Linked DNA regions of Homo sapiens. The protein of the gene in region 1 interacts with the protein of each later gene in a biochemical or structural test. Each region holds a gene or a part of one and is shown on either strand. Other genes may lie near its edges.

What was found.
Region 2: the proteins of S100A6 (region 1) and FKBP4 form a complex in vitro, tested with the Homo sapiens proteins (one study listed by BioGRID and IntAct).
Region 3: the proteins of S100A6 (region 1) and CEP43 form a complex in vitro, tested with the Homo sapiens proteins (2 studies listed by BioGRID and IntAct, with this or other methods).
Region 4: the proteins of S100A6 (region 1) and CSF3 form a complex in vitro, tested with the Homo sapiens proteins (one study listed by BioGRID).

Annotation. Positions count from the first base shown.
Region 1 is NC_000001.11:153,534,099-153,540,647, forward strand, and holds S100A6 (protein S100-A6), read right to left. Parts: upstream 1,894-6,549; 5' UTR 1,851-1,893; exon of another isoform or gene 1,263-1,850; 5' UTR 1,242-1,262; coding exon 1,104-1,241; exon of another isoform or gene 806-1,103; intron 733-805; coding exon 598-732; 3' UTR 501-597; downstream 1-500. Other genes in the region: S100A5 (protein S100-A5), read right to left, coding at 3,198-3,338, 5,956-6,107. UniProt on the Homo sapiens protein: May function as calcium sensor and modulator, contributing to cellular calcium signaling.
Region 2 is NC_000012.12:2,797,937-2,804,969, reverse strand, and holds part of FKBP4 (peptidyl-prolyl cis-trans isomerase FKBP4), read right to left. Parts: intron 6,265-7,033; coding exon 6,144-6,264; intron 5,883-6,143; coding exon 5,726-5,882; intron 5,121-5,725; coding exon 5,030-5,120; intron 4,932-5,029; coding exon 4,848-4,931; intron 4,579-4,847; coding exon 4,393-4,578; intron 3,854-4,392; coding exon 3,614-3,853; intron 1,820-3,613; coding exon 1,712-1,819; 3' UTR 1-1,711. UniProt on the Homo sapiens protein: Immunophilin protein with PPIase and co-chaperone activities. Component of steroid receptors heterocomplexes through interaction with heat-shock protein 90 (HSP90).
Region 3 is NC_000006.12:166,995,027-167,002,396, reverse strand, and holds the start of CEP43 (centrosomal protein 43), read right to left. Parts: upstream 3,001-7,370; 5' UTR 2,985-3,000; coding exon 2,883-2,984; intron 2,338-2,882; coding exon 2,284-2,337; intron 1-2,283. UniProt on the Homo sapiens protein: Required for anchoring microtubules to the centrosomes. Required for ciliation.
Region 4 is NC_000017.11:40,011,615-40,018,339, reverse strand, and holds CSF3 (granulocyte colony-stimulating factor isoform b precursor), read right to left. Parts: upstream 2,901-6,725; 5' UTR 2,866-2,900; coding exon 2,826-2,865; exon of another isoform or gene 2,650-2,825; coding exon 2,495-2,649; coding exon of another isoform or gene 2,486-2,494; intron 2,108-2,485; coding exon 2,000-2,107; intron 1,856-1,999; coding exon 1,709-1,855; intron 1,546-1,708; coding exon 1,381-1,545; 3' UTR 527-1,380; downstream 1-526. UniProt on the Homo sapiens protein: Granulocyte/macrophage colony-stimulating factors are cytokines that act in hematopoiesis by controlling the production, differentiation, and function of 2 related white cell populations of the blood, the granulocytes and the monocytes-macrophages.

The DNA.
Region 1 (6,549 bases):
GCCGCAGTAGACTCAGTCACACAGCGTCCTCACTGGTGTAGGAAACTCCCTGAGCCAAGCCTCAGGCATCTCAGATGTGCCCTATCTAACCCCTGCGCTGTGATGAGAAAGGGGACTTGCCCCACCCCAGGGCCCCTCTTGCCACACCCAGAGCAAAACACATCTGGGAGCCTCTGGGACTATCTCTGCCTCACTTCCAGGCCCCCAAACCCCATCACATCCCGGCCCAGGGACCATTTCCATCTCCAAGCTCATCCCAGGACTCTCTCTACTGGAAACCACTTGAGCCTTTCCTTAGGATGGCGTTGCCAAGAGGGGCATCTCTCCTCATTCACATAAAGGCACCTTATGTGCTAGAGGCAGCCTTGTCAGGGTGGGTCCTCTGGCCTGGCGAGTCAATGAGTCATTTTCAGAGGTTGACCGTGAGCAAATCTTCCAATGGCTGGTGTCCCACTAAGCCAAGGAGGAACAGAAATCATTCGGAAGCCAGGACGCAAGGGTAAATTTGACCAAAAAAAATTTATTGTACAATTACCCACCACTGGATTTGACTCAGAGAGGACCCCCAGAGGGTGTCTCCATCTTCCCTATTTATTTTCAGCCCTTGAGGGCTTCATTGTAGATCAAAGCCAAGGCCCCCAGGAAGGTGACATACTCCTGGAAGTTCACCTCCTGGTCCTTGTTCCGGTCCAAGTCTTCCATCAGCCTTGCAATTTCAGCATCCTGCAGCTTCTAATGTGTTAGAATGTGAAATCCATACTCAGTGGTGATGACAACCCTGGATTCTTCCCCTTCCCCCTCCCAGGCAATCCTCTCTGCAAGTGGCTCTGTGCTCCCTCATCACCAAGGACCCATGTCACTTTGGCATTGCTTCTCCTCAGCTACTTCTCAGTTACTGGTCCTCATTTGGAGAGATGGATATCCGGCTGGAAGCATCCCCTACCCGCTGGGAGAGTGGGTCTACAGCTCAGGGTCTACATGTGGACCAGGGCCTCAGAATGTGGGTAAATGTGAGTCAGATGCACCTGGCACCTCTCTCTCCCCTAATCCTGCTTCCAAAGGACAAGGGTGGGAAAAGGGGTCCTGGGGAGGAGGCCACTCACCGAGCCAATGGTGAGCTCCTTCTGGATCAGCTCCTTCAGCTCCTTCTTGCTCAGGGTGTGCTTGTCACCCTCCCTGCCGGAGTACTTGTGGAAGATGGCCACGAGGAGGCCAATGGCCTGATCCAGGGGGCATGCCATGGCTGAGGGCTGGGCTTGGAGCTGGCAGCAGAGGGCCTAGTCAGTGCCATGGGAGCAAGGACTTCTCACCCACACACCCCAATAATGCTGCCTGCACTAGCCCCGCCTCCTTTGGAACCACCCAGTCTCAGGCCACACACAATGGCATCAGGAGACAGCCCAGGGCTTGAAGGGGAAGGAGAGAGCACACTAGGGCCAAGGCAAGAGAGGTGGCTTAAGGATTCTAAGAAGCATATAGGAACAGTAGCTTTGGGCACAGCTGAGAACTGTCCTTCAGGGGATCCAGAAGTTGAGGAGTATGGCTGGGCAGGGGAGGGGAATGGAGGCTGCAAAGGCAGCTTAAACACAGCTTCACAGGGCCACACATGGTGGCAATGACACACCCAGGGCACTCCCTTCCGCACCCCAAAAGAGCACACCCCATTGCGATCCCTTAGCCCAAGGCCTGCCTGGCACAGCACTGCTGCTCCTGACTATCCCTCCAGCGGGGGAGCGCCACAGATGGCCCCAGTCTGGATCCAGCGGCTGAACTGGGCAGGGGATGGCTGGACCCCCAGCGTGAGGGCAGCTGGCCCTGGAAAGTACCCAGGGCTCCTGGAGAGAACTCACCGGTAGGGAGGCGGCCAAATGCGACGCGAGCGGTCGAGGGGATGGGCTGTGTCGCAGTCCGACTGGCCTTATAGCGGTCGGTGCCCCGGAGGCCAGCTCGGCCAAGCCCACCCCGCCCGCCCAAGTCCCGCCCGCGCCCCACCCTGCGCCGTGGCTTACACAACGCACATTCGCGGTTTACCCCCTCGACTTTCCACGCCTCCTGCCCGGGGCTGTTCCGGGTTAGGACGGGATGGGGGAGCCCAGCAGTGCCCACTGCACGCCTGGTGACGAGTCTCCCCTCATCTGCGCAGCTCAGTTTGCTCAGTTTGCTCTTCGTGACACGTGACTCGGCAAGGGGAGCAGGAGGAGGACTGCGGCGGTCACCCCTGCTTCCTCTGCCAGACCGTGAATGTGACCCTCGAGCCAGCGCAGCGTCAATGTGGGCAAGGAGGGCGCCTCACAGGATGCCGGTGTCCCACAGAGGATACTCAGGGTCACCCCAGAGGAGATAGGGGGAGTAGCCAGTGGTGTAAAGGATATCTACGGCGCCCATCCCCCACCAGCAACAAGTTCCTACCAACACCTCCACTCCTTCCCCTCAGTGCCCCAAATTCCATTCACTACAGCACCTTTGGTGTTAATGTGCATGCACGTGGGAGCCCAGCCCTGTAAGCACCATTCGTTATTTACGGGGGAGTGAAGGCCTTTTCAGACCCTCCCCTGAGAAAAGATTTTGATGGAGGAGGCAGGGAGAGAAGAAAGCACTGTCCCCCATAGATGATGAGAGTGGTGCTATTGAAGGGGAAATGGTGAAGAGGGAGGGGGCTGGTGTGGAGGCCAGACATGCCCTTCCTACAGGTGCTGCCAAGGTGGCCTCCGGTGAGCTGTGGACAAGTCAGGCCTGCCTGCCTATCACCGCCCTCAGGAGCCACTCCCAACCCCTCCCAGTGTCCTCCTCTCAAAGCAACTTTCCCTCTTAACTTCCTCTGCATCCTTGCAGAGTTCCCGCCTGGCCTAACTTCCCCATTTTCCAGGCAGGCAAAACTAAGCCATGACAAAACCAATGACGTCCACACCAAAGAAGGAGAGGAATGCAGTGGGAGCCCAGGACCCTAACCCCCAGAGGCAGAAGCTGTCTCAACCCACTCAAGGAGAGACCCTTCCTGTGCTCCCCTCTCCCCAGGCCAAGGTAGACAAGACAGCTTCAAAACCAGACTCCCAGCACCTGCGATGGAAACTTTATTTCCTCCCATGGAAGGGTCCATCTGGGAGGGAGAGGAGGGCAGGGGGCCAAAGAGGGTCTGTGAGAGGAGCAGCCGAGGTCAGCAGCAAAGGGTGGAGGGTGAGGGTGGAGGGCAGCCCTGGTCACTTGTTGTCCTCTAGAAAGAAGTCGTTGTAGGCCATGCACAGCATGGTCAGGAACACCGAGTACTCCTTGAAGTCGATCTCCTGGTCGCTGTTCTTGTCCAGGCTCTTCATCAAGTCATCGATGCTGCTCTCCTTCATCTTTTGTGGACCCAGGTGGAGAGACAGCTCAGACCCCGCTCCCAGCCCTGCCCTCGCACCACTGCATGGTGTCATCCCCACCCCGAAACTTCAGGGTGAGCCCCAGCTGAGTCAATGACACTGTCAGCATCTCGACCCCCAGAGTCTGCCCACTGCCCACACCTAGGGAAGGGCCTGGCATGAGGTAGGGGGTCAGGGACCTGACTCCTGAATGGAAATAAATGACAGCAGGAATGCTAGCCTAGCCTGCCTTCCCTGCAATACTGTCCCCCAGCCAAAGAAACAATCATCTAGGTTTTATACCAACACCTGATAAAAACAGCTTGCTGGGTCAGGTGTGGTGGCTCACACCTGTAATCCTAGCACTTTGGGAGGCCGAGGCGGGTGGATCACCTGACATCAGGAGTTCGAGACCAGCCTGACCAACATGGTGAAACCCTGTCTCTACTGAAAATACAAAATTAGCCAGGCATGGTGGTACATCCCTGTAATCCCAGCTATTTGGAAGGCTGAGGCAGGAGAATCGCTTGAACTTGAGAAGCGGAGGTTGCAGTAAGTAAGATCATGCCATTGCACTCCAGCCTGGGCAACAAGAATGAAACTCCTTCTCAAAAAAAAAAAAAGAACACCTTGCTGATTATGTGGCATTGAGCATTATCCAAGTCTCTGAGTGACTCTCTCCCCATTCTAAGGACTAGGTGAGAATAACCCCGGACAAAATGTCTCTCAATGAGAGCAGTGCACTGGGGCTGTGAAGCCACTGCATCCCTCCCCTGCTAGGAGAGCTGTGCAAGAGGCCTGCCTGGAGCCTGGTTGTGCACTGTTGTTCAGTCCCCTGATGTCCCAGCCTGGCTCCATTAGGACGATGGAGTCAGGGTCCTTTGGGTGGAACAGGAAGAAAATATAGACAAGCAGATCCTGATGTCTCCTCATCATTGCCGTCAGCTACAGGTTTTCACAGGAGACATTGGGACTTACAAAGGCGGAAACTGCTTGTCTGTCACGTGATCCTAGTCCCCAGCCTGGGCTCCTGTTATTGCCAGGCCCTCCTCTGGGCGTCTCTCCTTCTGTAATTAATCCCTGCTGGACCTGTGGCCCCTCCCTCTGCCCTCATTAACCTCCAGGATGCAGGCAGCCTGGCAGAAGGCCAGAGATCAGGCCTGGGGACGCCCATACCTGCTTCTGTCCCCTGCCCATGTGGCACACTGTGGACCTTCTTTCTGGGAGGGCCTACCAGGGCTCAAGGTGTGATAGATGGAGAGGCACCCAGGCTAAATTTTAAAGGAAACAGGGAGGATGATTCACAGGCCTGGCCCAGAACTCCAGCTCAGCCTCCCACTAGCGGATTGTCCTTAGGCAAGTTATTTGATGTATTTGAGCATTGATTTTTTTTAACTATAAAAATAATAAGACTAGGCACAGTGGCTCATGCCTGTAATTTCAGCACTTTGGGAGGCTGAGGCGATAGGATCATTTGAGGCCAGGAGTTCAAGAACAGCCTGGGTAAAATAGTGAGACCCCATCTCTACAAAAAATTTTAAAAATTATCTAAGCGTGGTGGTATTTGCTTGTAGTCCTAGCTTCTCAGGAGGCTGAGGTAAGAGGATCACTTGAGCCTGAAAGTTCAAGGCTACAGTGAGCCATGATCGCACCACTGCACTCTAACCTGGGTGACAGAGTGAGACTCTGTCTCAAAAATATTTATCCTTGGCCAGGCGCAGTGGCTCACGCCTGTAATCCCAACACTTTGGGAGTCCGAGGCAGATGGATCACGAGGTCAGGTGTTCGAGACCAGCCTGACCAACATGGTGAAACCCCCATCTCTACTAAAAATACAAAAATTAGCTGGGCGTGATGGTGCGTGCCTGTAATCCCAGCTACTGAAGAGGCTGAGGCAGGAGAATCGCTTGAACCTGAGAGGCGGAGGTTGCAGTGAGCCAAGATCATGTCACTGCATTCCAGCCTGGGTGACAGAGCGAGACTCTCTCAAAAAAAAAAAAAAAAAAAAAAAAAAATATATATATATATATATATATATATTTATTTATTTATTTATCCTCGGGGATATTGTATTATAATAACCTCATGGGCCTTCCCCTCTGTCAGTCACCTCCCTCCCACCACCTCCATCTGGTGAGAACCAGTTCTGTCTCCTCACTACCCTATGTTTACAAGTTAACCTTTCAGTTTGAGTGCCAGCACCATCAGAGAGCCCTGGCCATGCTGTGCACACAGAGAAGAATCAGGCAGAGTCCCTACACTTGAGTTGTACACAGCTGGACCTGGACACCCTGCATCCCTTCACCACCCATGACCCCTAGCACAGGTTCTGCCACTGCTGGGAGAGCCTGGCCCCACCATCGAAGGCTCCTCAATCTCCTTCTCTAAACCCTCCAGACTCAGCCCTTCCTCCTTCTCAGTGAGACCCTGACCCATTCTCCTTCACAGAGGGCTAGAGTTTTGCTGGCCCGAAATCCCCACCATCTTCCTTTGTCTCTGTCTGTAGCCCTTGGCCACCCTGCCCCTGGCTTAGGCTGGAGGATCCTGAGGGTAGGTATGTGTCCCCCAGAGGGAGTACTCAGACTTTGGGGTGGAGGATGAGGGAACAATCACCTACCTCCCCAAGACACAGCTCTTTCTTGATCAGCTCCTTGAGTTCCTTCCTACTCAGGGTCAGTTTGCTACCCTCTCTCCCCGAATATTTGTGAAACGTGGTCACCATAGTGGTCAGGGCCTTCTCCAGAGGAGTCTCCATCACAGTGTGCAGCTCTGTAGAGGGAGAGGGGAAGATCCCATTCCTCAGGAAGTCACCACCAGCAGCACTAGCCTACCTCTGAGGCCCCTCCCTCAAAGAACAAGAGACTGGAACCCAGGATGAGACTGAAATCCACTAACAAGAGCGCCCATCTATATCAGTACAGGTTACAATGAGACCCACAACAAACTCTGGAGCTGCTGGTACAAGGAGAACAGCAAGACCCCAAAGGAGACCACAGACTCTCCTGCTGGGGAGTTGTTGAAAAGTAGGCCTGAGGCAGAAAGATGAGAAGACGACCTCCTCAAAAGGCCCTGGTGGCAGATGGTGGAGCAGATCAAGGGTCACGATTTTCTCTCTGCTTCTTCCAGCTTAGGAACTGGTTTTCCACAGGCAGTTCACCAGCCTTTCCCCCAGTGCCTGAATCACCTGATATCGAGGAGTGTCCCATTATTA
Region 2 (7,033 bases), on another chromosome or scaffold:
CTGTGATGTGAGGTAAGCCCAGTAAGAAAGCAGTTACACAGGGACTTTTTTAAAAAAGAGATGGTCTCACTCTCTTGCCCAGGCTGGCGTGCAGTGGCACAGTCACAGTTCTCTGCATCCTTGGTGTCTTGGGCTCAAGGGATACTCACACTGGGAGACTTGTACACCCCAATTTTAATCCTGGCTCCAGCATCAGCTGTGTTGTATGACTTGGTGAAAATTTTCACACAGAAATACATCTTCCACCATTATACATTTCTTCTGGAAGGAACTATACAGGCATGTGGCTAAGCAGACAACCACATCGCTGTTGGGAAAGGACTGGAGAGCTCACAGTAGGAGAGAGGGATGAGGGCAGACACGGGCTCTGGCCTGGAGCCAGGATTATCTGGAGGCAGCTCAGCATGACTGGCTTGTGCTGCCTGGCTTCTCCCAGGGCCCCATCATGCCATAGGAGTTAAGGGTCAAAGCATAGTTAGAAAAAAAGCACAAGCCTTTTCCTGTTAAGGCTGAGAAGGAAGCTGGACGTGAACACTCTGCTTTACTCTTAACCTTAATCATGTAAGTTATCTGACAGGAGGAGGTCAGTGACACCAGGAGTTTTACCTTGTTAACAAACCAAAATGCAGATACCTCTGCCAGATCAGAGGTAGGCAGAAGACCAATTCCAACTTCAAAATGAACATGCATGGTGTCCCAGTCTTCTAGATCTTTATACTTTCGTCTTCCTAAGTGTCAGGGAAGAAAACCAGAGGCACTAAAACTGCCAGGTTGCTGGAGGGAGGGAGTGCTGGGAACCTTGGGCGAAGCCATAGACACAAATCCCAGCGGCAGCCTGTGCAGTGCTCAGGAAGCCATGCATGGTGGGGCTGCTTCCTGCCCAACTATGGCATCTACATGAGATGCTCACTTATTTAAGCTCAACTGGAACTAAGTGGGTGACCCCTTGATTGTGCTACTACCCATTATGTACCCACCCATACCCACCACTCCAAGGCTGAACAGAAAGGGTTGTCTGACACCCAGGTTTTATTGTTTCCACTTTATTGCTCAAGCATGGAACTTGAGGCAAGCCTGGACCTTCAGCAACGTGCAGAGAAGAGGCTGAGGGGATTTTGGGACACAACCTGGCCGAGAGGGGAAACTGACAGGGGAAATACCAGAACAGGGAACAGGGGGTGGTCACCATGACACCAGAAGACATCATCAGCCACACCGTCGGGGGTGAGGAAGGGAACAGAGAGAAGAAATGGCATAGCAGTGGTTTTTCCCATGTCCCTAGCACCCACATGGAGGCCACATTTGGAAATGGACTGGGAGAGGGAAAGGATGAGGAAAACGGCTGCCCAGGAGTCTCCCTCTCCACCCTGGGTTCTTATCAGACCTCATCCCTACCACTTGCCTCTTCTACCCTTAGAAAATGGACCTAACAGAGGGAGCAAAATAAATTAACATTCTGATGAATATATATGGATGGACATATGTTCATGTGCAATGGAGGAAGGGAAGAGGGGCTGACACCAGCTAAAATGATTCCCCACCTCAATCCCCCAGCCTACACCTTTCCCCCTTCCCCTAAAGCCACCATCCAACCAGATAGAAAAATAAAGGTCTAATTCACTCAAAATTCTTCAGTTTTTACAAAACTAACAGGGTGGAGTGGGGAGACTGGGGGGCAGGCAGCCGCAGGAGTAGGGCTGGTGGAGAGGGGCTATGCTTCTGTCTCCACCTGAGACTGGCTCCCTGCCGTGTTGCTCTTCTGCTCCTCCTTCATCTCTGTGTCAGTGGGATGGTCTCCTGAGGAAGCCTCTGCCTTGGCCTGCAAGGAAGATGAACAGCAAACGGGCTGACTTCCCAAGTGAAAAAACACACACTTAATTTCCAGCAGAATTACACAGATACACCCATTCTCCTACATCTGTCCTAAAGCTATACCTGTATAGGCCAAGCCTGGTGGCTTATGCCTGTAATCCCAGCACTTTGGGAGGCTGAGGTGGTCAGATTGCTTGAGCCCAGAAGTTTGAGATCAGCCTGGGCAACATGGTGAAACCTCATCTCAACAAAAATTACAAAAATTACCTGGGCGTGGTGGCATGCACCTGTAGTCCCAGCTACTCGGGAGGCTGAGACAAGAGGATCACTTGAGCCCTGGAGGCAGAGGTTACAGTGAACTGAGACTGTGCCACTGCACTCCAGCCTGGGCGGCAGGGCAAGAGACACTGTCTCAAACAAAACAAAACAGAACACTTGTATATGTACAAATTATGAACTCATGAGGTTATTCACTGCAATGCTGTTCTAAGCAGCACTGTCCCGTATGGTAGCCACTACTGTAAGTGGCTAGTTCAAACTCGTGTTTTTAGTGCAAAATATACATTGGATTTTGAAGATGGTTTGAAAAATACACAAATGCAACTAAAATTTAATTCCATTTGTTTTTCACCTTTTTAACATGGTTACCAGAAAATTTTGAATTACATGTGGTTGATACTGTATTTCTACTGGACAGTGCTGGTTTAGAACACTGTTTAAGACTGGCTGGGTGTGGTGGCTCACACCTGTAATCCCACCACTTTGGGAGGCAGGGGTGGGCAGATCACTAAAGTCAGGAGTTCGAGAGCCTGGTCAACATGATGAAACTTCGTCTGTACTAAAAATACAAAAATTAGCCGGGTGTGGTGGCGGGCGCCTGTAATCCCAGCTACTCGGGAGGCCGAGGCAGGAGAATCGCTTGAACCCAGGAGGTGGAGTTTGCAGTGAGCCAAGATCATGCCATTGCACTCCAGCCTGGGCAACAAGAACGAAACTCTGTCTCAGAAAAAGAAAAAAAATAAAACCACTGGAAGACTAAAAAGGGACTGATTGACTAAGACAAGCCATATCCATACAATGGAATACAATGTAAGCCTAAGAAAGAATGTAAAAGTTCTTTAAATACGGATGTAAAATAAGCCTCCAGCTACTATTACGTGAAAAAAGCATAGTATGCGCCAAATCATAGGTGGAGCACGTTGCCTGTGTTAGGGGAAAGGGAGGAAGCAACAGGAACGTCTGCCTGTGCCTTGACGCAATACACTGGACCATCCAAGACCCTGAAGGGGCAGCTGCTTCTGGTGGGGGAGGCAGACTTGACTGTATACTTTGGTACAGTTTGAATTTAACTAAGTGTATTATTTATTTAATCACACACAAAAAGCATCTCGCTTTTCTTTTTTTGAGATGGGGTTTCATTTTGTCACTCAGGCTGGGGTGCAGTGGTGCCATCCTAAGTCACTGAGGTCTCTACCTACTGGGTTCAAGTGATCCTCCCACTTTGGCTCTGCAAAGTGCTGGGATTGCAGGTGTGAGCCACGGCGCCTGGCCCACAAGAAAACATAAATCGGGAATTACACTCAGGGCAACCAACCCAACTTCTGGGGCTTGTGGGTAGGTTTCCCGCACTGATCACAGAACACTGGCCCCAACAGCAGGAACACGTGCTCCTTAATGCTCCAGGGAAAAGGCAACTTCTGGTTTCCGGGATTGGCACAGACAACCAAAGGCACAAAGAGCCCACAGTAGCCAGGTTAAGTGGAGGGATGCTATTCCAACTGTTCCCCACCCCAATCCTCACCTTGTTCTCCTCCTCAGCCAGCCTCTCAAACATATTGGCATAGAGCTTCTTCTCCCGGGCAAGCTGCCTTCGGATCCGCTGCTGGCACACAGCCAGCTGGGTCTTGGCGGCTTTGTTGTTGGGGTAGAGCTGCAGGACCTTCTGGAAATCAGCCCGTGCCAGTTCAAAGTCATTCACGGCCAGGTGGGCCTCTCCCCGGCGGAAGAGGCCCTTCTCGTTGTTGCTGTCCAGTTCTAGGGCCTAAAGAATGCAGAGAGGAAGCCACATTGTGGGAGCTCAGGGCTTGTAGCTCATCTGGCCTAGACTGGGTTCCAAAGGTACCCCTCAGGAGGATGAGGAGGAATGCAAGTGGCTGGCTGCACCCCAGGAAGAACAAGGCCTGAGGCATTAAATGGAACAATCCAGGGACCTCATTTAATCCAACAGGCAGAGAGGGAAGACAGCAGGTCTTTGGATGAAATAAAGACTTCAGACATTAACATTCACTTTAGAATAAAGCAAGTAGGTAAGCGGAGAGGCTAAGAACCAAGGTGGAAGAAAACTCTTTATGTGATTCTTCCCATTCCGTGTCCTCCTCCTTCTTGCCAACTGCTTCCCACCAAAGCTAAGGTTCTTGCTATGAATACTTGCATCCGTGCCTTTGGTCTGTAACCTCAGAGCTCCCACTGATCCACCCTGCTATCCCTGCCCTAGTCACCAAGGGGAAGTTTCAGACATGCTGGCAGCTCACCCAACTCTGCCTGTGAATGCTGCTTCCATGACCTCTGAGGGGGCCTCACCTTGTTACAGCTTTCAATGGCAGCAGAGAAGGCCTGTAGTTTCAGATGACACATGGCCAGGTTGAGGTGAGAGGCCAGTCGAAGGGCCTGTGCTTTCTGTGCTTCCTCATTGGAAAAACTAGACTCATATTCCAGCCAAGACACGATCTTCTTATACTGTAGTAAAGCTTGCTTGTATTTACCTTCCTGGAATGGGAGAGAGGCTCAGGCACCTGGCACAGTTTCAGTGGTACTAGGCTCTTATACCCTGCAGACATCAGTGACACATGGCCACAAGAGGTTCCTGCTCCCACCCTTCCCACTGGCAAGGCCAGCAAGCTCACATATATGAAGTGAAGATGGCAGGTGCCAACCTGTCCACTTCTTGGCAGAAAATGATCTCAGTCACCAAGGGAAGGGGAGGCTCAGAGCAACTCTTCCTGGGAGTGTCCTTAGGACAATGACTGTTGGCTCACCTTGAAGTACACAGTGCCCCGCTCTTTCACTATGGTGCTCTGTTCCAGCTTCTCTTCTGAATTCATCTCCCAAGACTCCTTGGCCTGCCACACCCCAGGAGAGAAACAAAGTTGTCAGCTACCCCAGAGTCACGTACAGGGTGGAACTTGACTTTAGATGGGAAGACCCTGAGCAAACTTACCTTTTCAAAACTCTTGAGGTGTAATTCATATTTCAGCTCAGCATTTGGTGGGATTTGGAACTTTTCCTTCCCAACACTGCCAAAAGCATAGCTGGAGGGGTGAAAAACACTATGTATCATCTTGGCAACACTTAACCTGCTCCAGGCTGAAAAGGCTTCCTGTCCATTTCCTGGAAAGTACCTTCCCATCCCTTGAGACTTGGTTCAAATGTTTGGCAAATCTTCCCTGGCCTCTTCACACTGTCAGATGGTCCCTCAGCATCCTTCATACCCTTCTAATAACTTACAGCCAGGCAGCAGTGTGATTACTAATTTAAATAGCACCTCACTAAACAATGAGCTAGAATTAGAAGGCAGAAACAATGTTCTATTAGTCTCTGAAGCCCTATAGGAATTTTCAGCAGTGCCTGGCATGTAGTAGCTGTTTCAGTAATGACTGAAATGAATTAATGGGAGAGGAAAATCTTGATGGCAGAGGAGAGAATCTGTAGCAACTATGACTGAAAAGACTGGGCTTAGATCCAAGGAGATGTAGACAATTGGGCCATACTTCTAAGTACACTGAGGATATCATAATGGTGTATGTTTGGTGTGGCCAGAGTTAAAAAGGATACAAACAGCTGGTTCTACAATTCATTTTATATCTTTGATCTTGGTTTGCCTGCCTGCCTACCCTACGAAGTGCCCACCCCTCACCTGGGCTTGAGGTACACGATGGAATGTTCTCCTTTCTCCATGCGCTGAATGGCCCTCTCCAGACCATAAGGCAGATCCAGGTTCTCCCCCTCGCCAATCTCAAAGCGGAGCTCCCGCTGGTCAAAGAGCTTGTCCTTGTAGTACCCTTCCAGTGCAACTGGCATGAAAGAGAGGCAGTGTACCAGAGTTGTAAGAGGGCAGGTGACTGAGGAAGGATGCCATCAGCCTCCCTGCATCACCCCCATCATCCCAAGATTCTCCTGTGTTCTCAAATCTGGAGTGATATGAAGAGAATATGGTCCAACCCCTCATTTTATGGACAAGAAGATAGGCTCGGAGAACGGAAGTGTCTTGCCCAAAGCCACACAAGGCCTAAATATCAGAATGAGAATTGAAAGCCCAGACTGTACTGTCTCACCCTCCACGATAGCACCCTCATTGGGCTTAGCATAGCCTTCACCGCGAGTCTGTATTCTGCGAATGATTCCGCCATCTTCCTCTTCCGTCAGATCTTCTCCCTTAAACTCAAACAACTCCACCTGTGGGACAAGATGTGACACAATTCCTTCCCATGCTAACTCATGGGCAGTGAAACACAATCTTTCTCATCCGAGAGAGTCCCTACTAACTGCCAGGCCGGATCTGACCACAAGGGCAGTCACAAGGAGTTGGGTAGAGTGGCACTTTTTTTCAGTTCTTGGGAGCTGCCCTAATCTCAACTTTGGTAGAGGTGGGCAGACTACATAGATTTCAGTTAAGCTGAGGAGAGCAATCTATTTGCTACCTGCTCTACTAACACGGACATATCAGGACGCGTCCCAGATAATCCTAATTCACACTACCTGATAAGCCCAACCTGGTAGGTATTAGAAATGATTACCCAACATCTCTCAGCAGTTTCTCAGTATTCAAGGGCCCACGGATTGGCTCAACCATTTTCAGATTGAACAATGTCAAGTTCTATCTCCTCAGTGAAGCCTTTTCTCAGCCCTTGACCCACAGGGGAGCTACTGCTCCCTCTTCTGGTCTCTAGAGCACCAATATTCTGTACTGCCATTTATAACGGGACATAGTTTCTGACATCCCGACTCCTTTCAGTATTCTTCTGGGTACCGCTCTGGAGATAAAGATGCCTTAACCCTGACCATGCTTTGAGTCTGGAGAGGGGCTTGTGCCTGCCTCTTCCCACCCGAAGCTTCTATTACTTCCATTACTAGCAGCAGCAGAGCCCTCTGCATTTCTCCTCCCATAAGGCCAGACCCTCAGCCTTGGCTACATTGTCTCCAAGAAGCAGGAAGGGCTGGAGGG
Region 3 (7,370 bases), on another chromosome or scaffold:
AACAGCCTAAATGTCTGTCAGCAGGTAATGGCTAAACTGTCATATCTGTACAATGTATTAATGAAATGATTTATTAATACATACCACAACATGAATGAATTTCAAATGCATTATGTTGAAGAAACAGACCAAAAAAAAAGAGTACCTACTATACGATTCCATTTATATAATTCTTAAAAAGGTTTGGGGTGGGGGAGAGGGTTACATAAGGGGCACAAGGAAAACTTTTGAAGGTCAAAAGTTTGAAGGATATGCGCAGTACCTTGATTGTGATGATCATTTCACAGCTGCATAAATTAACTATTAAAAATCAAATTGTACATATTAAATACTTTAGCTTTACTATAGGTCAATTTTACCTCAATAAAGTTGTTAAAATAAAAGACAAGGAGAGGAGAGATCCTCAAGGTAGTTGGTAGGCTGGTTCAGGGAATTCTAAGATAGGGAGTCAACTGAAATATTTTAAGAGAATGGAGGGACAGATCAGATGTGTACTATAAACAGCCAATCTAGGAGCAATGTGGAAAAAGGACTTCAGGGAGATGGTGAGGGACACCACGGAAACGGAGACTGGCAAGTAGGAAGGGGATAAGGCAATCTGGAAAAGAAGAAACAAGCACAAAGGAGGCAGCAGAGCACTCCCTTGGGGACACTTCAGATACACACCTGACAGACACAGAGCCAGGTGATGGCTGAGCAGGTGGAAAGAAGAGCAAGGCCTAAGAAACGCTTAGATTTCTTGCCAGATAAATGATGGTCCCATTAAGGGCATAATACAGTGGGCAGTTTAACATACAGGTCTGAAGCTCGGGAAAGAAACATGCATGAAAGTTACAGGGCTGGAGTTACTGGATGAATAAGGTCAGTCTGTGAGACAGTACAGAATGACAACTGTGGATAAGTCTCAGTCAGGTGTACAGGAAAAAGATCATGCTAAAGAAACCAAGGAGTGGTCAAAACCAGGTTGTGAAGGAAAAAAACCACAGCGGTATTAAAAGCAGAATGTGAGTAAAGGAAAACAGTTTACTCCTAATAGTTATTTAAACATGTTTTCAAGCTCAAAAGAAAAGCCATCAGAAAAGGAAGGGGTCAAAGATACAGTAAATAATTAAAGACTTGAAAGTATACACAAGACAGAGTGATTATTCTTGGACAGGACAGAGCCTCTTCTTCTAAAGCAGTAAGGAAAGAGGTACAGATAAACATAGACACAGGTAAGCATTTTCACAGGTGAGCAATAGATTGAGGGACAGGAGAGGAGGACATAAAGTTAGGATCTAATGGCTTCTACCTTCCCTGTGGAGGAAGCAACAAGACCATGTGTTCAGAGAGAAGGAAGCAGGGGTGACATAGAAGGCTACTGCACAGCTAGGGTGAAGAAGAGAGCTGCTGGGCCTGCTCAGGACCTAACCAGGTTGGTACCTGCCAATTTGCAACATCAGCAATCCACAGGATTGACTGACTCTTCTCCAAGAGCACATATGTGCAAAGTGGGAAGAGTTAGTTTGCTGGGTTAAATGACCACTGAGATTTCTTCCAGACCACGTATGACCGTTAAGGCAAGGTAATTAGGGGTCCAGACCCATAGGGTCCAGAGCAAAATGCTGCCAAGAGAAGACTGATGCCTGCACAGACATGGAAAGGGCAAAGAACTGAAGATTTTGATGAAATTAGAGATTAGGTATACAGGTCTAAAGAAGTGAGAGGACAGTAGACTGATTTGTCATACAGCAAGAGTTTAAGGCTTTGATGATGGTTCTATTCTTGTTGACAAATTCCAGAATATTTACTCAGGATGGTTGGTGGGACTCCGAAAAAGTTAAATTACCCACTTAAATATAGAGTAGTGGCTGCACTTTTAAAATAATCGCTGTCTTTTTCATTGTCAAAATAATTGAGTGGTCAGATAATTTTGGGAAAAGTTGCATACTATATACCCCGTTTCATAGGGATTAATAACATATTAGCTTACTAAAGGATCTGAGTGAACCTGCACTTAACACATTGACAATGGCACCATTTCTTCAAGAAACTCCTATGACCATTTGTTTCAGATTAAGCATTAGTATCAGAGTTACTGTGGTACCTTAAGATTACCCCCAAATTCAAAAGCTACACGAAAAAAGAATAATTTTGGCTCTCTCTCAATAGTAATGTAATCCTTAACAGTTCAAAATTATCCCTAGCTATATGTTACTATAAACTATTTTTAAGACGGTTTTTAATGAATAAGAAATTAAGTATTAACGAATACAGCCATGTTAAAATCTGGAAACTTCATACCTCTACTTTTTCTTGCTCCTCTAGTGCTAAAAACACAGCTGCTCGGAGTTCAGCCTTAAAAAAAAGTTAAGAAACAGGAAATTATAATTTCAAGACAATTTTCACAACAAGCTCACATTTATCCAGCAACAAACACGAGCAAGCCAACGAGCTGGGAGGGCAGGTGCAAAGGTCAGAAACGCCTTCCGAAACGTTCTCAGTCACACAAGCTCTCCGACCCCCAGGCTTCGGCTGGACGCGCTGCTTTCCCGCCGCGGATCATGCCCGAGCCTGAGGAAGAGACGCTGGGGCCGCACTCCAGGGCCCAGCTGCGGGCCGCCCGTGTGGCCCCCAAGCCCCGCGGTCCCGCCCCCACGGAATGAGGCAGGGGATGGGCCAGGCACCCCCAGTCCGCGGTGCCCTCCGGGACCACACGAACGAACGAGCCGACCCCCTCTGTGGGGCGGGCAGGACGGAGGCCATGCCGGGGCGCGCCCCCAGTGCCCGCCGGCCCCGGTCCCTCGCCAGGGAGGCGGCCTCCTCGCCGCGACCGTTGTGACGCCCGCTGTCCACGCAAGCCCTGCGGATCCGCCAGGCCCGGCCCCAGCCTCCGGCCTCACCTTGATGCGGTTCAGGACCCCGCTGTTCTCCAGCGTCTGCACCAGCAGGTCCCGCAGCTCCGTGTCCTCCTCGGCCACCACTGCGGCCGCCGTCGCCGCCATCTTGCTTCTCCAAGACAACCGCCGAAGCCGCGCTAACGGCCAACGGCCGCAGCAGGGTACGCTCCGCGCGCGGGCTACGCGGCCGACGCAGCCAAAGCCCCGCCCCGACGCGCAGCGCGCTGGCCCTGCCCCCTGGCGTCGGGAGGCGGGGCATAGAGACCTCGGGGTTGACGCTGGACACCGAGCCTTGGGGAGCGCCGGACCACTGAGCGCCGAAACTTAGGGTCGGCGCTGGGGGCGGGGCTGCGGGGCGCGGGTGGGCACGCAAGGGGCGGGGCGTCGGCGGGGCCTCCAGCCGGCAACCCGTTGGCTGCCGTCGCCTGAGGCGCGAGCTTTGAAGCCGGCGAGCGGTGAGGAGGAGGCGCCCTCGCGTGTGGAGAGCGGACTCCGCCTGGACTCCACCGCCCACGGCCGCATCCCATCGCCGCACAAGATCGCCGGAGTCATATTATCGACGTAGTTAAAGCCCACTAGCCTAAAGCCGGGCGGACTGCGGTAAGGAGGCCCCGAGACCGAACCTGCAGCCCCTGCAGCCCCGGGGGGGCGCCGGGGAAGGGACTCCCGAGAGGTCGCGAGGGGCGGAAGGCCCTGCAGGTTGTCACCCGGAAATAACGTTCTGAGGCCCCCCAGCCAGGCGAACGCACCCTGCTCGGCCACGGCCTCCGAGGCTAACCGGAAAGGTGCCAGGCCGAGGTGCAGGGGCGGGATGGCCCCAGGAAGAGCCGAGGGCCGAGGAGGGCGTTGGGTGGGCTCCGCGCTGCCCGAACTGGGGCCGCAGTCTCCACTCCCTCCTGCCCCGCGGCCCTCCGCCGACAGCCAGGCGCCGGCGGGGAGTCCTGGACCCCTCCCGGGCCCTGGAAGCCCCGTCCCGCCGGAGCTGACGCGCCCTCTTGGTATCCATCCGGCCGCCTGGGCTGCCCCTCGCCCCTCGCCTTGGCAAAACCAGCCCCCGGACCGAGCCCTGCCTTGGAGAGTGTGGGTGCGCAAGGCCAGCCGAGCTGTCGGTTCCGGGGTTTCGGGGTGCGCCACTGTATGGCGGCGTAAGCCGAGAAGTGTCCGAGGCCGGGCTCCAGCAGTTGAGAGGCTGATTTGGCCACGGTGAAGGACGCGCCCGGAGGAAGGAAACGGGAATCCGAAACGGGCGGTGGCCGCGCCTTTCCCGAGGCCGGCGTCGAGGGCTTCAGCGCCTCAGGGTGGGCGGGAGGGGAAGGTCGTGCGACCCGCGTGGCCGGCGGAAAGGAGCAGCGGGAGCCGCGGCCGTAGGGAAGCCACGGGAAGACGGGCGGCTGCGCTGCGATGCGCGGCCCTCTCCCTGAAGCCCTCGGCTCAGGCGCCACAGGAAAGGCTCCTTCGGGCAGGCCTCAGCTTTCAGCTTAAGTTTTTTTCCTTTGGCCGAGTCAACTGCGGTGCCGAGTTGTATTTTCCTTTCAGAGGTGTGTCCGAGAACCATTCTTAGGAGACGCCTGCCGGCCGCTTTGGGATAGGGCCTGTCTGCCCATGCTGGCTTCCAAAGGCCTCTGTGTGTTCCTGTATGTGGGCGTGCACGTACCTGTCACATGTGTACGCGCAGACCACAGGATGTCCACACTGGCTTCCAAACACATCTCTGTGTTTCTGTCTGTGAGTGTGTACGCAGGTGTCAAATGTGTACGCACAGATCACAGGGTGTCCACACTGGCTTCCAAACACGTCTCTGGGTTCCTTTATGTGCGTGTGTATGCACTTGTCATGTGTACACACAGATCACAGGGCATCCACACTGGCTTCCAAACATGTCTCTGTGTTTCTGTCTGTGGGTATGTACACACATATCACATGTGGAAGAGGTAGGAAGAGGCTGGAACAGGTAAGGGTCATGAAGGTGCAGTGCACTATTGTACTGTTTGCGCTTTATATGTGTTTGGTTAGTTTTGCAAGAACATGCTGGTGAAGGAGAGAGAACCCCAAACAATTGATTAGCAGTGCTACTGAAACTCAGATATACACAGGAATGGCAAAGAAACATCTATGAAAAAAAGCAGATTCTGGAACTCCATCTCCCTGAGATTGTCACTCATGGGGTCTGCAGGAAGTTTCAGGAATCTGCATTTTCTTCTAATAAACGTGGTCCACAGGTTATAAGTTGAGATACAAATAGAATATATAAAGTAAAAAAGGAAAATTTGAAGTTTCCTGCCTAGCCCAACTCTTCTCATTGGTAGTGTCTGTTAAATTGGAAACATATCTCTTTCCAGACATATTAATACCTTTTATACAGTTGACTCTTGAACAACATTAGTTTGAACTGCGTGAGTACACTTATATGTGGATTTTTTTCAGTAAATGGAATATTTTTGGCGATGGCAACAATTTTGTGAAAAACCTCACAGATGAGTCGCTTAGCCAAGAAATATGGAAAAAAAAAGAAAAGAAAAAGCTAGATATGTCATGAATGCATAAAATATATGTAGATACTAGGCCATTTTATTATTTACTATCATAAAATATATACAAGCCTGTTATAAAAAGTTAAAATTTATCAAAACTTACACGTACAAACAGACAGTTACATGGCACCCATTAGGTTCAAGAGAGGTGTAAACAGTTGTAAAGATGCAATATTAAATAATAACTGCATCAAATTCACTGTAGTACATAGAGTACTACTGTAATGATTTTGTAGCCACCTCCTGTTGCTATTGCAGTGAGCGTCAGTGTTGCTGGTATTGGCTAAAAATTCCAAGTAACATAATCATCTCTGAGTGAGCAGTTGATCTCTCCAGTACATTGCATATCACAGTAAAAGGTAAGCTCTTGAGGTTCTCACATATTTCTCGTTGTGTTCACTGCAGTACTGTAAACCTTGCGTAACACCATGGGACCATTACGAAGTGCCGCTAGTGGTGCTGGAAATGCTCCCAAGAATCAGAGAAAAGTTAATGACATTACAGAAAAAGCGGAATTGCTTGCTGTGTATTGTAGATTGAGGTCTGCAGCTAAGGTCGCCTGCCATTTTAAGATAAATGAATCCAGTATAAGGACTGTGGTATAAAAACAAAAGGAAGTTTATGAAGCCATCGCTGCAGCTACACCAACAAGCATGAAAACCTTGCACTTTTTGGGAAATACCTTTTTATCTCATATTGCAAATGCAGCTTTTTGTGGGTGCAGGATTGCTATGAGAAAGGCATACCTATATAATCTAATATTCAAGAAAAAGTGAAGTCATTATCTGACAAAGCAAAAGGAAGATGAAGGAAGGTATGATAATTTTAAAAAGTGGGTTGGCTTTCAAAAAATGTCAAGATAACAGGAGAAGCAGCTTCTGCTGACCCAGATGCAGCCGACGAGTTCCCAGATACCATTAAGGAAATTATTGAGGACAAAAGGCCAGGCTTTGTGGCTCATGCCTGTAATCCCAGCACTTTGGAAGGCTGAGGTGGGTGGATTGCTTGAAGCCAGGAGTTCGAGACCAGCCTGGCCAACATGGCAAAACCCTGTCTCTTCTAAAAATACAAAATTTAGCCAGGTGTGGTGGTGCACATCTATAATCCCAGCTACTGAGGAGGCTAAGGCATGAGAATCGCTTGAACCCAGGAGGCAGAGGTTACAGTGAGATTGCACCACTGCACTCCAGCCTGGGAGACAGAATGAGACTCTCTCAAAAAAAAATAAATAAAAAATAAAAATAAAAAAAAATAGAGAAAATCACTGAGGAGAAAAGATATCTGCCTGAACAGGTTTTTAAGGCAAACGAAAATGCCCTATTCTGGGGGAAAATAGTGCCACAGAGGATATTTATTAGGAAGAGAAGTGAACATCAGGATCCAAGGCGGGAAGGGATGGGCTAACTGTACTGTTTTGTGCAAATGCAGCCAGATGTATGATCAGGACTGCCCTTATCTATAAAATTGAGCCTTGAAGGGAAAAGAAACACTGCCTGCCACTCTTTTGGTTGTACAGCAAGATGGCTGAGCAGCAACTCTTTTTCTGGATCAGTTATATAAATGCTTTGTTTTTAAAGTCGGGAAGTACCTTGCCAGTAAGGGATTGCCTTTAATGTTCTTTTGATATTGGACAATGCCCCTGGCCACCCAGAACCCCATGAGTTCAATACAAACACATTGAAATGGTCTACATGCGCCTAAACACAACACCTCTAATTCAACCTCTAGATAAGGGAGTCATAAGGACTTTAAGGATCATTACACACAGTACTCTGTGGAAGAGAACCCCAATTGAGAGAATATCATGAACGTCTGAAAGGATTACACCATTGAAGATGCCATTGTTGTTTCAGAAAAAACCATGAAAAGCCATCAAGCCCAAACAAATTCCTGCTGGAGGAACTCCAGATGTTGTGCATCACTTCACAGGATTTATGACAGAGCCAATCAAGGAAATCAT
Region 4 (6,725 bases), on another chromosome or scaffold:
GGGGCGAGTGCAGAGACCGAGTCTGAGGAGAGAAGCTCTGACCCCAGTGGTCACCTTGAACTTGGCTTCCACTTTGTGGGCAACTTGATGGATGGGCTCAAGTTTATGGAAGATGGTAAATGACAAGCCTGGTGCAGATGCTCAGCACTCCCTGGCTTCATCTTGTCTGGCTGTGTCTGGCCTGTTAAGCCCACCCAGACCCCATGCCCTCTCCTTTCCGGGTTCCCATGGTCCCTGTGCCTCTGTCTTCCCTGCCAGGCTTTGGCTGCTCGAGTGCAGATTCCATGTCTGCCTTGTTCCCTGCTGTGTCCCCAGCACTTAGCCCAGCGTCTGCACAGAGTAGGTGCTCAGATAAATATGTGCTAACGGAATGAATGTCAGACGAACTTGAGAACTTTCCTCCTCCTCCCTGGACCTCCTCCCCAGACCTCCTCCCCGACCTCCCTCTGGCCTCTCCCACCCTTCAGCCACCTCCCCAGCCCCTGGCCAGGCACCAGCTGGACTCAAGAAGGAGGAAGGACGTGACTGGAGGCAAACACTTTATTATCCTGAAGTTCAGTTACAATGTGACAGTGGAGGGGACACTGGTGAGTGGGGGGTGAAGAGGTGGAGGGTGACAGTGGAGCTTCCTTTCACACACAGGCCTGACATGATTCCTCCTGTCTGCTCCCTCCCACATCCCCAGTCCCCGTCCAGCAAGGCAAATGTCCAGGCACCTGCCTGGCCCTAAAAAGAGTCACAGTCCTGACCCTCGTGGGGGCAGGGCAGGTGTCCCGAGGCCACCCAGAAAAACAGGAGACGCGTCGGTGATGTTCGGGAGTCAAACCATGTCCCAAAAGTCTTAAGAAGAAAAACGAGATTCCCCAGCAAATTCGTGGGACCCCAGGGCCATGCCTCCCAGCTCTGGCCACCTCTGCTTGTCCAGGGGCCTCACAGCCAAGGGGATGCAGGGGCCGCTGTGCAGTCGGCTGAGGCCAGAGTGAGGGGTGCAAGGACCCAGATGGGGAACACTGCTGTTTAAATATTAAACAGGGATTTCTTGTCTCCCACGTGGGAGACCTGATACTCTCAAGGGTCCCAGGTGGGGACCCTCAGGACCAGGGGCTCACAGCGGCTCATCCCAGTGCCCATTGCAGAGCCAGGGCTGGGGAGCAGTCATAGTAATAAATACTTGGTATTTACCTATCTACCTCCCAGTCCAGGGGATGGGAGGACAGGAGCTTTTTCTCACTGCTACAGGCAGGAGAATGAAACTCAGAAATGCAGGGAAGGACACAGAGGCCTGGGGCTCCGTTCTGCTCTTCCCTGTCTTTAAATATGAGGCTTAAATAGACATAAATATTAAATAGAGATAAATACATGGGATGGGGAGGGCTTGGCTCAGGGCTGGGCAAGGTGGCGTAGAACGCGGTACGACACCTCCAGGAAGCTCTGCAGATGGGAGGCAACCAGGACCCCTCCTGCCCGGCGCTGGAAAGCAGAGGCGAAGGCCGGCATGGCACCCTGGGTGGGCTGCAGGGCAGGGGCCATTCCCAGTTCTTCCATCTGTGGGGGAAAGCTGTGATCAGTGGTTGGGCCCTTCTGAGTGGGCGTTATTACAAATGAGGAAATGCTGGGGGTGACAGCATGGACAGGGCCCATACACAGGCCTGGCTGTGGTGCCCAGAATGCCAGCACGACCTTGGCCACCCTGCCCAACAAGGCTCACCTGCTGCCAGATGGTGGTGGCAAAGTCGGCGACGTCCAGCTGCAGTGTGTCCAAGGTGGGACCCAACTCGGGGGAGATCCCTTCCAGGGCCTGCAGGAGCCCCTGGTAGAGGAAAAGGCCGCTATGGAGTTGGCTCAAGCAGCCTGCCTGTGAGACAGAGCGGAAGAGTTAGGGGGTGCTGCCTGAGATACGTCAGGCCCCCAGCTTGGAACCTGGAGACATGGGGGAGCCCATGGGTGTTCCTCCTCTCCTTCCCCCTCCTCATTAGCCTTATCCTTTCCTGACACTCACCAGCTGCAGGGCCTGGCTGGGGCAGCTGCTCAGGGGAGCCCAGGGGATGCCCAGAGAGTGTCCGAGCAGCACCAGCTCCTCGGGGTGGCACAGCTTGTAGGTGGCACACTGGGGATGGAAGGATGCTGAGTGAGACTCGCCATGGCCGGGTCGCCGCTCCTTCCCGGGTCCTCCCCGACTCTCTGGTCTTTCCCCTCCCTCCATGTCCTGCCAGGCTGTTCAGTTCCTCTCTGCCCTGCACCCCCACTCTCTGATCTCACAGGGGCCCTTGCCCTTTCTCCTGAATGTAATGCCTCCACTCCCATCCCAGCCAGCCCTCCCGAGCACTGTCCCCACCAAGGTCCTCCTCCCCAAGTCCCTTCCCAGCCTTCCCCAGCTCCACTGCTCCTAATATTCTCCCACGTCCCTTCCAGAGGATGTTGGCCCTGCAGTTCCATCCCCCTTAGCTCTCCCCACCGGGCTTCCCTCCACAGCCCTCTCACCCACCTCACTCACCAGCTTCTCCTGGAGCGCTGCGCCATCGCCCTGGATCTTCCTCACTTGCTCTAAGCACTTGAGCAGGAAGCTCTGGGGCAGGGAGCTGGCAGGGCCCAGGGGGGTGGCTTCCTGCACTGTCCAGAGTGCACTGTGCCACAGCAGCAGCTGCAGGGCTGGGGACAGAGCGGGCTCAGGAGACATGCTGTTCCCTACCACCTGAGGCCCTCTCGGGGACACTGGGTGCCTTTAATCCCCATTCCCAGAACGGGGATCCCCAGCCCCTCTGTCACACCAGCCTCCCTCCCATGCCAGGGCAGGCGGCTCTCCCATCCTGGGCCAAGACACTCACCCATCAGCTTCATGGGGCTCTGGGTGGCAGGTCCAGCCATGGGTCTGGGTGGGGCTGGGCTGCAGGCTCCGGGCTGTTTTGGGGCCCAGCTCTAGGGGGGCCTTTATACATAACCCCATGGAGGCCTGGGAGGAAATTACCTGGGGCCACGACTAAGGCTTAGTAATAACTTCCCAGGATTTATGCAAATTTGGTGTCCAAGACAATGCAGGGGGGTTGGAACAAAAAGCTGTTTGCGAAAGTTTTGTGAAATTGTGGAATCTCTGATCCTCCTTTGACGTCGCCTTGCCCCCCTCAAACTCCCTTCCTCCCGCTGCCCCACCCAGGCCTGAATGGCCCCAGAGTGTTTGAACAGAACAGCTGAACAAAGGCTGAGCCGCTGATAGACGCCTGGAAGCGGCAGCAGCCTGTGGGGAAGTGGCAGCTGAGTCGGGGTCTCCCTCTCTGCTCTGGCAGACTTGCGGGGGCAGTGTCCTTTGCCCCTCTCCTTTGGGATTCTCAAGCCTGTCCCCCAAGCCCCCAAATTCTAAGAGAGAAAAAAAGAAGCTGGTTGCTCCCATTCCTACCCCCAAACTCTCCGGAGGCTGCCTGTCTGGGAGACCTCCTGAGCCCCTACCTGAGATAAGGACATTGGGTCTTGGCTGCTGTGCCCACCCCACACTTGGATAGGCACCATCGAAAGTTCCAGGCTGTCCTGTCCCAAGTTGATTAGCTGGGAACTCCCCCAGAAACCCCCCCGCCCCCCATGACTCATTCGGCTAAAGCCCCTAGAATCCCGGTAGAGCCAGAGGAAACCGGATGTCTGTCCCGAATGAGGCAAGACCCTTCGAGGCGATTGGCTCACCTGACCTTCACCTCCTCGTGCACGACCCTGACAGTAGGGTCCCCAAGGGCTTTGGAACTGCGGGATTGGGACACGTGACTTCCCTGGTCATTCACCTTGAAGTGGACACGGGCTGGGGTGAGAGAGGGGAAACTGCCCCATCTTCTCATCTTAGAACCATGCAGCGTTAATGCTGGAAGGGACCTTGGAGTCGATTCCAACCCCGTGAACTGGGCCAGGGAAGGAAGTGCCTTGCCCAAGGTCATGGTAAGTGACAGAATTACAGCCTGGGCCTCTGGCTCAGACCTGAACGTTTTCTTTTTCTTTTCCAGATGGAGTCTTGCTCTGTCGCCCAGGCTGGAGTGCAGTGGCGCGATCTCGGCTCACTGCAAACTCTGCCTCTCGGGTTCACGCCATTCTCCTGCCTCAGCCTCCCGAGTAGCTGGAACTACAGGTGCCCGCCACCATGCCCGGCCAATTTTTTGTATTTTTAGTAGAGACGGGGTTTCACCGTGTTAGCCAGGATGGTCACGATCTCCTGACCTCGTGATCCACCCGCCTCGGCCTCCCAAAGTGCTGGGATTACAGGCGTGAGCCACCGTGCCCGGCCTAGGCCTGAACGTTTTCTACAGGCCACAAGGCCTGCCTGGGGCAGTCTGACTGACCACACCCAAGACTGTCACCTTCTGTCCTAATTTACCCCAGCGTGCCAAGAAACAGACATCTCTGGATGAGAAGTGGATGTGGTGACTGGATGGGGCCATCTCTGGTGCTTGGGGGCCCCCTGGTGGTCACCAATGGCAGGGACGTCTGATCTCACACACTGATCTCACACACTGTTATCTGGTCCGCGGTCCTGCAGCTCCGCCTTAGCTCTGTGGCTCAGCACCTTGCACTGATGTGGCCCAGCTCTGTACCCAGCTCCCTGGGAGTAGAGGGTGGGTTTTTGTTGTTGTTTTTTTGAGATGGAGTTTCGCTCATTGCTCAGGCTGGAGTGCAATGGCACGATCTCGGCTCACTACAACCTCCGCCTCCCTGGTTCTAGTGATTTTCCTGCCTCAGCCTCCCAAGTAGGTGGGATTACAGGCATGCACCACCATGCTCATCTAATTTTGTATTTTTAGTAGAGGTGGGATTTCACCATGTTGGTGGTCAGGCTGGTCTCGAACTCCTGACCTCAGGTGATCCACCCGCCTCGGCCTCCCAAAGTGCTGGGATTATAGGCATGAGCCACTGCACCTGGCCTTGAGGGTGGGTTTTTAACAGGACCATGGAAGGCAGGAGCTCCACATTCTTAAACATGTTGCCTGGCAACTATTGCATTGCACACCTCTTATATGTCAGGCACTTTTTTTTTTTTTTTTTAAGACAGAGTTTGGCTCTTGTTGCCCAGGCTGGAGTGGGTGGAGTGCAATGGCACGATCTCGGCTCACTGCAACCGCCGCCTCCTGGGTTCAAGTGATTCTCCTGCCTCAGCCTCCTGAGTAGCTGGGATTACAGGCATGCTCCACCACTGCCCCCACAGCCGGCTAATTTTGTATTTTTAGAAGAGATGGGCTTTCTCCATGTTGGCCAGGCTGGTCTCACACTCCTGACCTTAGGTGACCCGCCCGCCTCGGCTTCCCAAAGTGCTGGGATTACAGGCATGAGCCACTGCGCCTAGCCATATCAGGCACCTCTTATTACACTTTTGTCAATTTTTTTGCGGAGGGGAAACAGGGTCTCAGTCTGTCCCCCAGCCTAGAGGGCTGTGGTACAATCACAGCTCACTGCAGTCTTCACCTCCCAGGCTCAAGCGATCCTCCCACTTTAGCCTCCCGCGTAGCTGGGACCACAGGCACGGACCACCATGCTCCGCCAATTTTTGTAATTTTTTTTTTTTTGCAGAGAGGGCATTTCATCATGTTGCCCAGGCTGATCTCAAACTCCTGGGCTTGTGTCCGAAACTGGTGAGTGCTTGGTCTCACTGACTTCAAGAAGGAAGCCGCGGACCCTCGCAGTGAGTGTTACAGCTCTTAAGGTGGTGCATCTGGAGTTTGTTCCTTCTGATGTTCAGATGTGTTCGCAGTTTCTTCCTTCTGGTGGGTTCGTGGTCTCGCTGGCTGAGGAGTGAAGCTGCAGACCTTCGCGGTGAGTGTTATAGCTCTTAAGGCAGCGCGGCCGGAGTTGTTCATTCCTCCCGGTGGGCTCGTGGTCTTAGTGGCTTCAGGAGTGAAGCTGCAGACCTTCGTGGTGAGTGTTACAGCTCATAAAAGCAGTGTGGACCCAAAAAGCGAGCAGTAGCAAGATTTATCGCAAACAGCAAAAGAACAAAGCTGCCATATTGTGGATGGGGACCTGTGCCCGTTGCCACTGCTGGCTCGGGCAGCCTGCTTTTATTCTCTTATCTGGCCCCACCCACATCCTGCTGATTGGTAGAGCCGAGTGGTCTGTTTTGACAGGGCGCTGATTGGTGCGTTTACAATCCCTGAGCTAGACACAAAGGTTCTCCACGTCCCCACTAGATTAACTAGATACAGAGTGTCGACACAAACATTCTCCAAGGCCCCACCAGAGTAGCTGTCAAGCCTCTGAGCCCAAGCCAAGCCATCGCATCCCCTGTAACTTGCACATATACGCCCAGATGGCCTGAAGTAACTGAAGAATCACAAAAGAAGTGAATATGCCCTGCCCCAACTTAACTGATGACATTCCACCACAAAAGAGGTGTAAATGGCGGGTCCTTGCCTTAATTGATGACATTACCTTGTGAAAGTCCTTTTCCTGGCTCATCCTGGCTCAAAAAGCACCCCCACTGAGCACCTTGCGACCCCCCACTCCTGCCCGCCAGAGAACAAACCCCCTTTGACTGTAATTTTCCTTTACCTACCCAAATCCTATAAAACGGCCCCACCCTTATCTCCCTTCGCTGACTCTCTTTTCGGACTCAGCCCACCTGCACCCAGGTGATAAAAGCTTTATTGCTCACACAAAGCCTGTTTGGTGGTCTCTTCACACGGATGCCCATGAAAGTAGCCAGATACAGACTGTCGATTGGTGCATTCACATACCCTGAGCTAGACACAGGGTGCTGATTG